Regions from separate parts of the Homo sapiens genome. Here region 1 is linked to region 2. Evidence: fine-mapped expression QTL. A gene starts in region 2. The other region holds a variant in brackets. All regions are shown on one strand. Distances are from middle to middle.

Region 1 (5,000 bases), 32 kb after region 2:
ATTCAAGTAGCAAAGACAATTTCTTTCTAGGAGCAGGAGAATAAGTATGATTTGGCTTCTGTATCTTCTATTTTTTATTATAAGAAGAAATCTGCTGTGGCAAAAAGTCAAGCAGTATAGGAAGGTAGAAAGTAAAAGTTTTCCAACAGTATATACCCAAATTGAAAGGAGGGACTCAAAAAGTTATTTGTACACTTGTGTTCATAGCAACATTATTCACAATAGCCAAAAGGTGGAAATAACCCAAATGGTCATTGATGGATTAGTGGATAAACAAAATATGCATACAAATATATATACGATGGAATACTATTCAGCCTTAGAAAGCAAGGAAATTCTGATACATGCCACGACCTGGATGCACCTTGAAGACATTATGCTAAGGGAGTGAGCCAGACCTAGAAGGAGAAATACTGTGTGATTTGACTTATACGAGGTTCCTAGAGTAGACAAATCCATAGAGGCAGAAAGTAGAATAGTGACTACTTGGCCGGGCACAGTGATTCACGCCTGTAATCCCAGCACTTTGGGAGGCCGAGGTGGGTGGATCATGAGGTCAGGAGTTTGAGACCAGCCTGGCCAACATAGTGAAACCCCTTCTCTACTAAAAATACGAAAAATTAGCTGGGCGTGGTGGTGGGAGCCTGTAATCCCAGCTACTCAGGAGACTGAGGCAGGAGAATCGCTTGAACCTGGGAGGTGGAGGTTGCAGTGAGCCGAGATTGCGCCACTGCACTGCATACTCCAGCCTGGGCAACAGTGCGAGACTCCGTCTCAAAAAAAAAGAACAGTGACTAGGCACTGGGAGGAGTTATTGTTTATTGGGTACAGTATTTCAGTTTGGGATGATGAAAAATTTCTGAAGGTGAATAATGGCAGTGGCTGTACAACAGCACAAATGTACTTAATGCCACTGAATTGTACACTTGAAAATGGGTAAAATGGTAAGTTACATGTATATATATATATTTTACCACCATAAAAAGTCTCCCAACACCAGCCTACCAGTTATAGTTGGCACTATAAACAGCTTCTTTTATAGCCATCTAGATAGGGCTATGCAAATACAAGCATAGATATGCGAGTATAAGCATACTGTCAATGCATAGATATGCGAGTATAAGCATACTGTCAATGCTCATTCCTTGGAGCACTCATGTAGGTGCCAGGTATTTCCCAGTGAACAAAACTGACAAGGTTTCTGCTGTCATGGAGCTTTTAAAAATTTTGTTTTATGCAAATGGATTACATACTGTTTTATACCTCATTTTCCCCCTTAACGGGTATCTTTGGACATCTTTCTGCATTAGCTTTTGTATAGATCTAACAACTTAATGGCTTCATAGTATGCCCTTGTATGGATGTGCTATCATTTGTGGCTGCATTTTTCATTGAATGGAGTAAGGGAGGTGGAGGTGTAGAGCTTGCTATGGTTTGCTGCTGTTGTAAATTAAATTTTTATTAGGAAAATAGTATAGCCTTCTTATAAAAAGTCAATGCAAAAAAAGTAAAAGTAAAAAGTAAAAATGGGAAAAAACAATAACAACCAACTTAGACCCAAAGTTACGCAGAGTTAAGAGCTGGGCTGAGCCATATTCTGTCTAGATCCTATTACTGTAAGAGTCAGGTGATTTCTTAGTTATCATTTGTATGGTGTTCCACAATCAATGAGATCATATCAAGAAGATTGCTTTGAAAACCATTATGCTAGAAATATTACTTTAAAGTTCTTTGATTGCAAGCCCTGGAAGTCATCTCAGGTTCTATTAAACAAACAAACAAAAAAGGACTTCCATGAAGGGGTTCTAGGTAGCAAATGAAGAAATATTTAAACAACTCTGGAAAGACAGGAACAGGGTGGCTTTAGGAGTCTCAATATCAGTGCTTATCCCTTTCATTTTCTATGTCTGCTTAAGATTCAATTCCTGGGAGAGATGAATGGCCTAGAGAACACGTGCCTATTGATGGTGAAGCAGGGAGAGTCCTGGGTTTTTGTGCTCCATGCGAATCTTATGGAGTTGGGGAGGTGCAGTTTTGGAAAGGATGGGATTCAAGGCTGGCAAAACCATCTGTCAGCCTTGCGATGTCAGCTGTTTTAAGCACAGATTCTTATTTCCTTCTTAAGGAGGAGATGACCGCCGGGTTCTGCTATGGCACATGGAACAAGCCATCCACTCCAGGGTCAAGCCCATACAGCTGAAAGGAGAGCACCATTCCAACATTTTTTGCCTGGCTTTCAACAGTGGGAACACTAAAGTGTTCTCTGGAGGTAAAAAGGGAGATTCTACCTTGGGAACGTCACTGTGGTTGGGATTTTAGAGAAAAGAGTGCGAAAATAACTCCTTATTTTTCTTCCTGTATTTCATTGAGCTGTGGAATTACTGGTTTCTCATAGCTTGTCTTTTCTGCATTACAGCAGTATTATATATTAGGATAGTGTGTGTCTTTTCTCTCTTCTCTTTTTTTTGCTTTTCTTCACCTGTCTTTTTCTTTATTTCTCTTTGGCAGAAAACTTTTCACATTGCAGTCTGGTACACAGAAACACACACAGACACACACACATATTTGAAACAATACTTAACCTTCCTATTTGTGGCACACTCTGGTTTTTTTTTATTCTATTCGATTTCATTTTTAAAGATTATGCTGGCCATAA[C/T]GCAGATGAATGTCCTGACCCACAGATGGCTCCTGTTTGAAAAGTGTTGTGTTAGGGTACAATTGGAATGGCTGGTGCTCACACCAACCTCTTGGTGATGGCTTCCATCAACCATACTCCTTCTGACCCCACATTTCTAGTTCTGACCTCTTTTCTGAGCTGCAGATTTTCCCACTGGATATCTACCTGTGTTCCAAAAGCAACTTAAATACAATAGATCTAAAACCAAGATCATTAGTCCTCCCCTGAGTGAAAATTTCTTCTTGTCTGCTGGATTTTCTTTCTCAGTTACAACCATTCACCCAATTATATAAGCTATTAGGTTTAACTTTAAGAAATTGCTGACAATTAACCATTTTCAACTTTAAAAAGTAGCAGTTTCACATGGTTCATTCTACCTATGATCTTGGAGTCATCCTCAAACCTGCCTTTCTTACATTTACACATCTAGTCTGTCACCAAGTCCTGTCAGGTCTATCTTGAAAGCCTCTCATACTCATCCGTTAGTTTGGCCTGGATTTTTGCAATGGCCTTCTGTGATTTCTGTTACCACTCTCTAATTCTCCTTTGAATTCATTGCATACACAAGTTTACTTTTAAAAATAAAGACTGGACCATGTGAACCATTGAGCCTACAGTGCCTGAAGAATGAAGTCTAAATCCCAATCTATCTGTCTGGCCTGACCTCCCTTCCCTGAGTTATACACTGTAGCCCACCAAACTATTTGTCATTTTAAGAATGCACTGCATGGTACTATTTTGCCCTTGTGCCTTTTGTTCATGGTGTTCTTCCACCTTAATTGTCCAGTCCCCACCAATTCCCCTAAGCCTTTCATTGGTAAGAGTTTTGAGTTATTTGAGTTTCTCTTCAAAGGTCTCCTTCTCCATGTACTTTCACCCTGCTTATGAAGGAAATAATTGACCCCATAGCTAGATCATATTGCTGCAAGGCAAACCCTCTTGTTGCTGTTAGTTGTTTGTCCAGTTGGACTGTTCTCAAGTCCAATTGGAGTTCTCAAGGACAGAGTAGAATCTTATTCTTTTTATATACCCAAGACCTAGCACTGTACCTGATACCTAGAAGGCATTAGTATGGGTTTACTGATTTCATTGGTTTGTACCTACAGTAGAATTTACAGCCAGGCCTTTGTTTAAGATGCCCTGGGCCATATCTTTACTGCTACTTTTGCTTTCTATTTAAGTGACTGTTGGTTGTGCATTTTAGCATAGAGTGGGACTTTTTTCATGTTTTGTCTTCTTATATTCAGGTTTTAATTTTTTTGCTATACAAACCATTTGAAGGCAGGACTACACATATCATGAATATAATTTATATCCTTTGATAGAATAAGGAGAAATACAAGATTAAAACTTTCACATCATTTGGAATCACAGTCATCAAATTTTCATGCTATAAAAGATGATGAGGCTGGGCATGGTGGCTCACACTTGTAATAATCCCAACACTTTGAGAGGCCAAGGCAGGAGGATTGCTTGAGCCCAGGAGTTTGAGACCAGCCTGGGCAACATAGTTAGACCCCAACATGTTAGATCTCTACAAAAAAAATTTTTTTTTTAATTAGCCAGGCATAGTGACACATGCCTGTAGTTCCAGCTACTAGAGAGGCAGAGGTGGGAAGATTGCTTGAGCACAGGAGGTCAAGACTGTAGTGAACCATGATTGCACCACTGCACTCCAGCCTGGACAACAGAGCAGGATCCTGTCTCGAAAGAAAGAAGAAAAATTTTTAAAAGACAAACAGAGCAAGATCCTGTCTCAAAAGAAAGAAAGAAAGAAACATTTTTAAAAGACCATGAGGATAGAAATATTAACAAACATTTATTGGGGGCTTATTAAGTGATCAGCCCTATTCTGAATGCTTTTACAGATGTACTCTTATGCTTACAGTTACTCTATGATGTTATTATCCCTATTCTGTAGGTTAAAAAGTTAGGTCATAGAAATGCTAAAGATTTTATTGCAGGTCTCATGATTAGTGAGTGTTCTGCTGAAAAAGAAAAAAAATAAAGCTAGTGAATTGATTTGTCAATGATCATTTAGTGTTTTTCTTGATGGCCACAGTTTTGTTTTGTGTTGTTTCCCCCCTACTTTTTTTTTTTTTTTGAGACAGTCTCTCTCTGTTGCCCAGGCTGGAGTGCGATCGTAGCTCACTGCAGCCTTGAACTCCTGACCTCAAGCGATTCTTCCACCTCAGCCTCCTTAGTAGCTGGGACTTCAAGGGTGTGCCACCAGTTGGCTAATTTTTTTATTTTTATTTTCATAGAGATGGAGTCTAACTATGTTGCCCAGGTTGTAGCCACAGTTGTTTTTTTTTTTTACATC
Region 2 (5,511 bases):
ACCATTGCACTCCAGCCTGGGTGACAGAGTCAGACCCTGTCTCAAAATAAATAAATAAATTTTAAAAACACAGTTTCTAATGTTTGAGCATTTCCTTAGCATTCAATCAGTTTTTAAAGATTCCTTACTCTATCTTCAGCAATATTGGAGTCAAACAAAATAGAAGTCAAAGAGTAAATACATTTCTGGGAATTCTACATTTGACCAGTATTCAACCTATGGTGAAGCAATTAAGAGTTCTTGGGTTAAGCAATTTCCATATCTTTGTTTTTCCAGAATGAATTTCCAAATCAGTGTTTCAAGGCTTCCTAAGTATGAATGTTAATACACATAAGTTTCTGGGTTTAGGAAAGAAAAATATGAGTTTTTCACTCTTCTCCCTCTTCCTCCATACATTCTCTGCAGTGGTTCAATTTACTCAGAAGTAATTTCATTTGCTATTTTAAAGCTAAGTACACTGGCCTTTTCACTATAAATGCCTATATGAAAAACACAAAGCTCATGTGGTCATCAAAGCTGATTAAATGTTTGTGGTATTGCAATTTTGTTACAGGTGTGGTAAAAAAAGTTTGTGGTAGGTAGTTATGTACCATATTATTAGTTTGCAATAAATGACACAAGGGACTATGTTAAATTCCTAGTAAAAGCAAATTGATATTATGGAGTTTCATCTTTTGAAGTTGGTTATAAGTAGGTGGCCAGATTGAGCAAATAAAAAATTCAGGATGCCCAATTCGAGTTTCAAATAAACAATATTAGTATATCTCAAATATTTCATGGGGTATACTTAAACATTCATTGTTTATCTGAAATTCATACCAAATTGGGTATCCTCCATTTTATCCGACAACTCTTAATTATAGGAATAGGAAGATATTTCATTCAGGCTTATAAAAATCTGGCCAGACTAGCAGTAGGATATAAACAGACTAGGTGGTCCTACCTTTCTGTCACTGTTGGTCACCCAACAGTTAAGGAAGTTTCCAGCAAAGTCCTAGATTTGGGCTGGCATGTGACCAGATGCTGGTCTATTTTTATGCTGAGGTAAATGGGACAATTTTCCCAGGAATTCAGTAAAAACTGTAAAGGGGGTATGTGCTTAAGAGGGCAGAGGAGGATGCGTATTATACACTGCCACAGTAAAGGCCACTTCGAACAAATCTCCCCCACCCCAGGCAAATAGGTATAAATGATGGCCTATTAACTGGAAGAAGTTAGAGGGGGTTTTGAATGTGTGGACTGAGTATGCCAAGCAAAGGAACAGTGAGCAGGGAAACTGGCCTTGGAACAAGTGGATTCCACTGGAATGAAACAGGTCAAACTCAACATATCCAAACCGGAAAGCACGACCTTTCCCTTCAAACTCCTCCCCACTCCCTAAGTACATTCATGAATTCAGCAAGTATTAAAGCGGCCACTAGTGCCAGCAAGTACTGGCTCCAGGCATACACCCTTGAGCAGAACAGACGTAGTCCCTGCTCTCAGAGAACTTACAGCAGAGTGGGGAGACTCATATCATCACAAAAATAAATGATTAATTACACATTTTGACATTGCAATGACAGAAGGATGTTTGGTGCTATACATCTTTAATAAAGCTGGTATACTGCTACTAATTTTTAGGTGGTGATTATAATGAATAAACACAAAGGATTATTAGAAGGCATCCTGAGGATAAAACCTTTTAAGTACCACATAGTTTCCTATTTAGGGGAACAATATTCCATTAAAATTCACATTTTTGGAATTTGATTTCTTTCTTTTAAAAATTTATTTATTTTTTGCCCTTTTCCCCAAGTTCTGATGGAATTTGGTTTCTGTTTAGTAATGTTTGCTAGAATATGTACTTTTATATGAAACATTTGCATATTTGTTATTAGTACGATTAATCGTATTGTCACTGAACAAAAAGTAGAAGTAAATAATTTTGTTTGACGGGTAAACCTCTTCCATGTTCAGCCGATCTTTTTTTTTAAAAAAAATTATTATTATTTTCCCCAGATCAGAGATGTACAGCCCATCTTTCAATGATGATTCTACTCAACTGCTCCTGTGCCATCTCTGGTCCAGAGGATGTAATTCCTGCTAACTTGAAAGGGCAAAACTGACAAGTGCCTATTTCAGTAGCTTATTACCACTTAATGACAGAGGATAGCTTCCAGGAAAAGTACTATAATACATCGAAAAGGGGACTTTTAACTGTATCTGGTAGAATTCCAAAGCATTTAACACCCACTAGGGTCAACGCGGTGACTCCCATCCTACTGAAGTGCAGCCACTTCTGGCCTGGAGCGCAGCTGCTGGTTAACAGCTGTCCAACCTCAGTGCTCCCCACTCGAGACCTTTAAGAGGAGCTCACCGAACCCAATTAAATAACATATATCGTTAGTTTCAAATCACGCTTCTTGTGTCGTGCAAATTTATCTGGAACGGAGAGAAGTACCTCGTGCTTCTCGGGACTTCATCAACTCGGTTTTGGCAATTTTCTTCCTACTTCTTTATCCCTTTCTCTTTCCCCCCATGTACCACTCTAATCTGCCAGACGGAACAATTTAGCCTTTTTCAACTAAAGGACCGGAGGAAGGAAGAGTTAGAGAACTGGACTTGGGGATGAGCGGTGGTGTTAAACATTTACCGGGAGAGGGGAAGGGGCGGGTGCGCGAACAAAACCCCCAGGCAACGTTCCTCCAAGTGTGCGGCCCTACCTCCCGGTTCCCCCGCCTCGGGCAGGGCCGGACTGCCCAAGGCAGAGGCCAGCAGAGGAAGGAGGGCCGGAGCCCCCGCCCGCACCTTCCCCCACTCCAGCCGCATTTTCCCCGAACTCGTACGGGCGCTGGCCTCCGGGCAGCAGCCGGCCCGCGGGTCCCCGCGGGAGGAAGGCGAGCCAAAGCCCGGCGGCCACTCGGATTGTTACGCGCATTCAACTCCGCGGAGTGCGGGGCGCTGGGGTGCAGAGGGGTCTCCGCCCGGCGCCACCCAGGTCCCCAGGCGGGAAGCGGCTCAACTGGGAAAGCAGCCGGCGCCCGTGGTCTCCGGGCCGGCCGCCCGCGTTCTTCCGGCCAGCCCCCCGCGGAGGGGAGGGGCGCCGACGCCGCGTTCTCGGGGCCCCGCAGCCGGCGGAAGGGCCGCGCATCGCGGAAGCGCGGCGGCAGCTGAGGATCAGCTGCTGGAGGAGGCGGAGAGGCAGAGGGAGGAGCCTCGGGGGGAAGGAGAGGGAGGGGACCGTCAGGAAGCCGCGAACGCCGCCGAGTGTCTGCACACCTCGCTCTGCCTGCCATGGCTGGTTAAAGAACCATCCGGATCGCAGCGCGGGGGGAGGGCCGGGTGGGGGGAGCAGCGGCCGCGCGTGAGGCCGAGGGAGGGGCGGCGGCGCGAGCGGCGGCGGCGGCGGTTCCAGCATGAAGAGGAGAGCTGGCCTGGGGGGCAGCATGAGGTCAGTGGTGGGCTTCTTGTCCCAGCGGGGCTTGCATGGGGACCCCCTGCTCACTCAGGACTTTCAGAGGAGACGCCTGCGGGGCTGCAGAAACCTCTACAAGAAGGACCTCCTCGGCCACTTCGGCTGTGTCAATGCCATTGAATTCTCCAACAATGGAGGCCAGTGGCTGGTCTCAGGTAAATCAACCCCCTTCCCCTCCCCGCGCCTCCCCGCACCCTCCCAGCCTCCCCCTCTCGCTCTCCCCCGTCACCCTCCTCCTGCCCTCTGTCCCCACCCCCTCCCTTTCTCTACCCCCTTCTGCGGTGGGAAGGTTTGGTGTCAAATTAAAACCATTGCAGGGGGAGGGGAAGGAGAGGATGTCTTCTATAAAAAAGACCTAAAATGGTTGACAGCTCCTTAATTCGCTTTATCCCAAGTGCAAAGTGATCTCTCCTGATGCCTGCCCTGAAAGTGTAGGTCGGGGAGGGGGGCGAGGTTACCGCTCTACAAAGTTTGACGGCAAACTCTTCCTCCGCGTACTTTAAAAGGTGCTGGGGGCATTTTGGGGATGTGGAGGGTGAGGAGGCCGAGGAGCGCCGGAGGCAAGGGGGAGCTGAAGCCCCCGTCGCCGGCGTTAAGGAAAAGGGGTCTTGGGGCTGGGAAGCGGGCGGTGACAGACCCGGACGCCGAGGGGCCGGGGGCTGCGACCCGGGGGCTGGCGGGGTCTGCAGAGGGGAAGTGACTGGGGCGGTAGGGTCGCTGTGGGCCGCCCCCCTCGGCGCTCTTAGAGGCCCAGCACCATCGCCTTTCGTTCGGTTGTGGCCTCTTCTGCGTCTTGTTTTTAATACAGTTTCGAGAGTGGCGAGGGCTGTGGAGGCTAAAGGGCACCAGCCTGAACTTGAATGCGCAACTTGCGAGGCAGGCGGTAGGGTGGGGGACCCCCGGGAGACTTGTTGGCGGGAGCCCGGCGCCCCGCACCCCGTTTCCCGCGGCCGCTGTTGCAAGTGGTCTCTGCTTCTCCTCCCTCTCGCCCAGACGGGCCTGGTTGCCCCCGGGCTCTCCCTCTGGTTTGGGGAAAGTGGCGAAATCGAGGCCGGGGCTCCGGCCGGGCGGTGTAGGCCTCGCTCTCCCGGGGCTCCTAGCGACAGGCAGCTGAATCGATAGCCTATTGCTCCCGGGGAGGCCCGGGCCCCGCGGGCCGCGGCGACAGCTGCCCCTGGGGAGGTGCGCCTGCTGCCGGTGGGGGCGCTCGCCGCCGTCGTCCCCTCCTCCCTGGGGTCGCGGGCCCAGGGCAGGGGCGGGTGGGAATGGGCCTACGTGAGGGCTAGGGGGCGGCTCCCCGAAACCTGGCTCAGGGGAGGGGGGGTGAAGACGGCTGATTGGGCGTTCCTGCTTGGCTGCTGCCCTCTTCTGTCCCTTTTCCTATATTGGGAGGGATGAAGGGGGAACCCAGCGCTGGACGTGGCGCTTAGCTTCACCCAGGTCGGTCCCTGAATGTCTTTCTAATTTGTGTCCGTGAGCAGCTCGCCAGAAACTTCTGGGATCTTGGCAAAGCATCCGTCTTCGCGAGTAACCTTCGGAAGTGACATGGGGCGTACAGTCCAATTTGGGGGTAGCAAAGAGAAAGGTCTTCTGTGATCATTTTATGATAAACCTTCTGGGGTCTGTCCAGAACTGACTTGACTTTTGTACCCCAGATCGTTTTCTCTTTGACTAGGTAGATTTTGGCCCTAGATCATCCTCTGAAGAAACCTGATCTTTCAGACAAAAGCCTCCTTCCCCCACAGCACCGTATAAAATTTTATCAAATAAATTTGAAGAGCAAAAATGGGGGAAGACCTCTTCTTTATAGACCTAGCTCCCAGTTTCCCTGCTGTTGTTTTTTATGTATTCATAAAACTCCCGATGTATTACAACAGAGAAGTTCCCAGACACAAGTAAACTTTACCTACCGAGTGAGGGAGTTTGGGGGTACTCTTTTAGAGACAACTGAACTAATCATGTTAACGGAATTGTAAGTAGTCACACGTTGCCCAGCTTGACACACCTTTATTTACGTATTTATTTGAGACAGGGTATCACTCTGTTGCCCAGGC

The links. PIP is the estimated chance that this variant, and not a neighbour inherited with it, causes the effect. A credible set is the group of variants that fine-mapping cannot tell apart.
Region 1: its variant is the best candidate, but not a certain one, in a credible set for the expression of DCAF5 in whole blood (TOPMed, PIP 0.85).

Annotation. Positions count from the first base shown.
Region 1 is chr14:69,119,486-69,124,485 of GRCh38, reverse strand. DCAF5 (DDB1 and CUL4 associated factor 5) reads left to right here. Exons shown (of 9, transcript NM_003861.3): 2 at 2,126-2,269. Among named protein-coding and RNA genes, the nearest start is that of DCAF5, 31 kb to the left of the region's middle. The variant C/T (reference allele first, on the strand shown) is at 2,657.
Region 2 is chr14:69,150,866-69,156,376 of GRCh38, reverse strand. It overlaps DCAF5 (DDB1 and CUL4 associated factor 5), which reads left to right and starts at 3,258. Exons shown (of 9, transcript NM_003861.3): 1 at 3,258-3,612. The coding sequence starts at 3,399. RefSeq lists silencers at 2,814-3,453, 4,274-4,323, 4,484-4,943.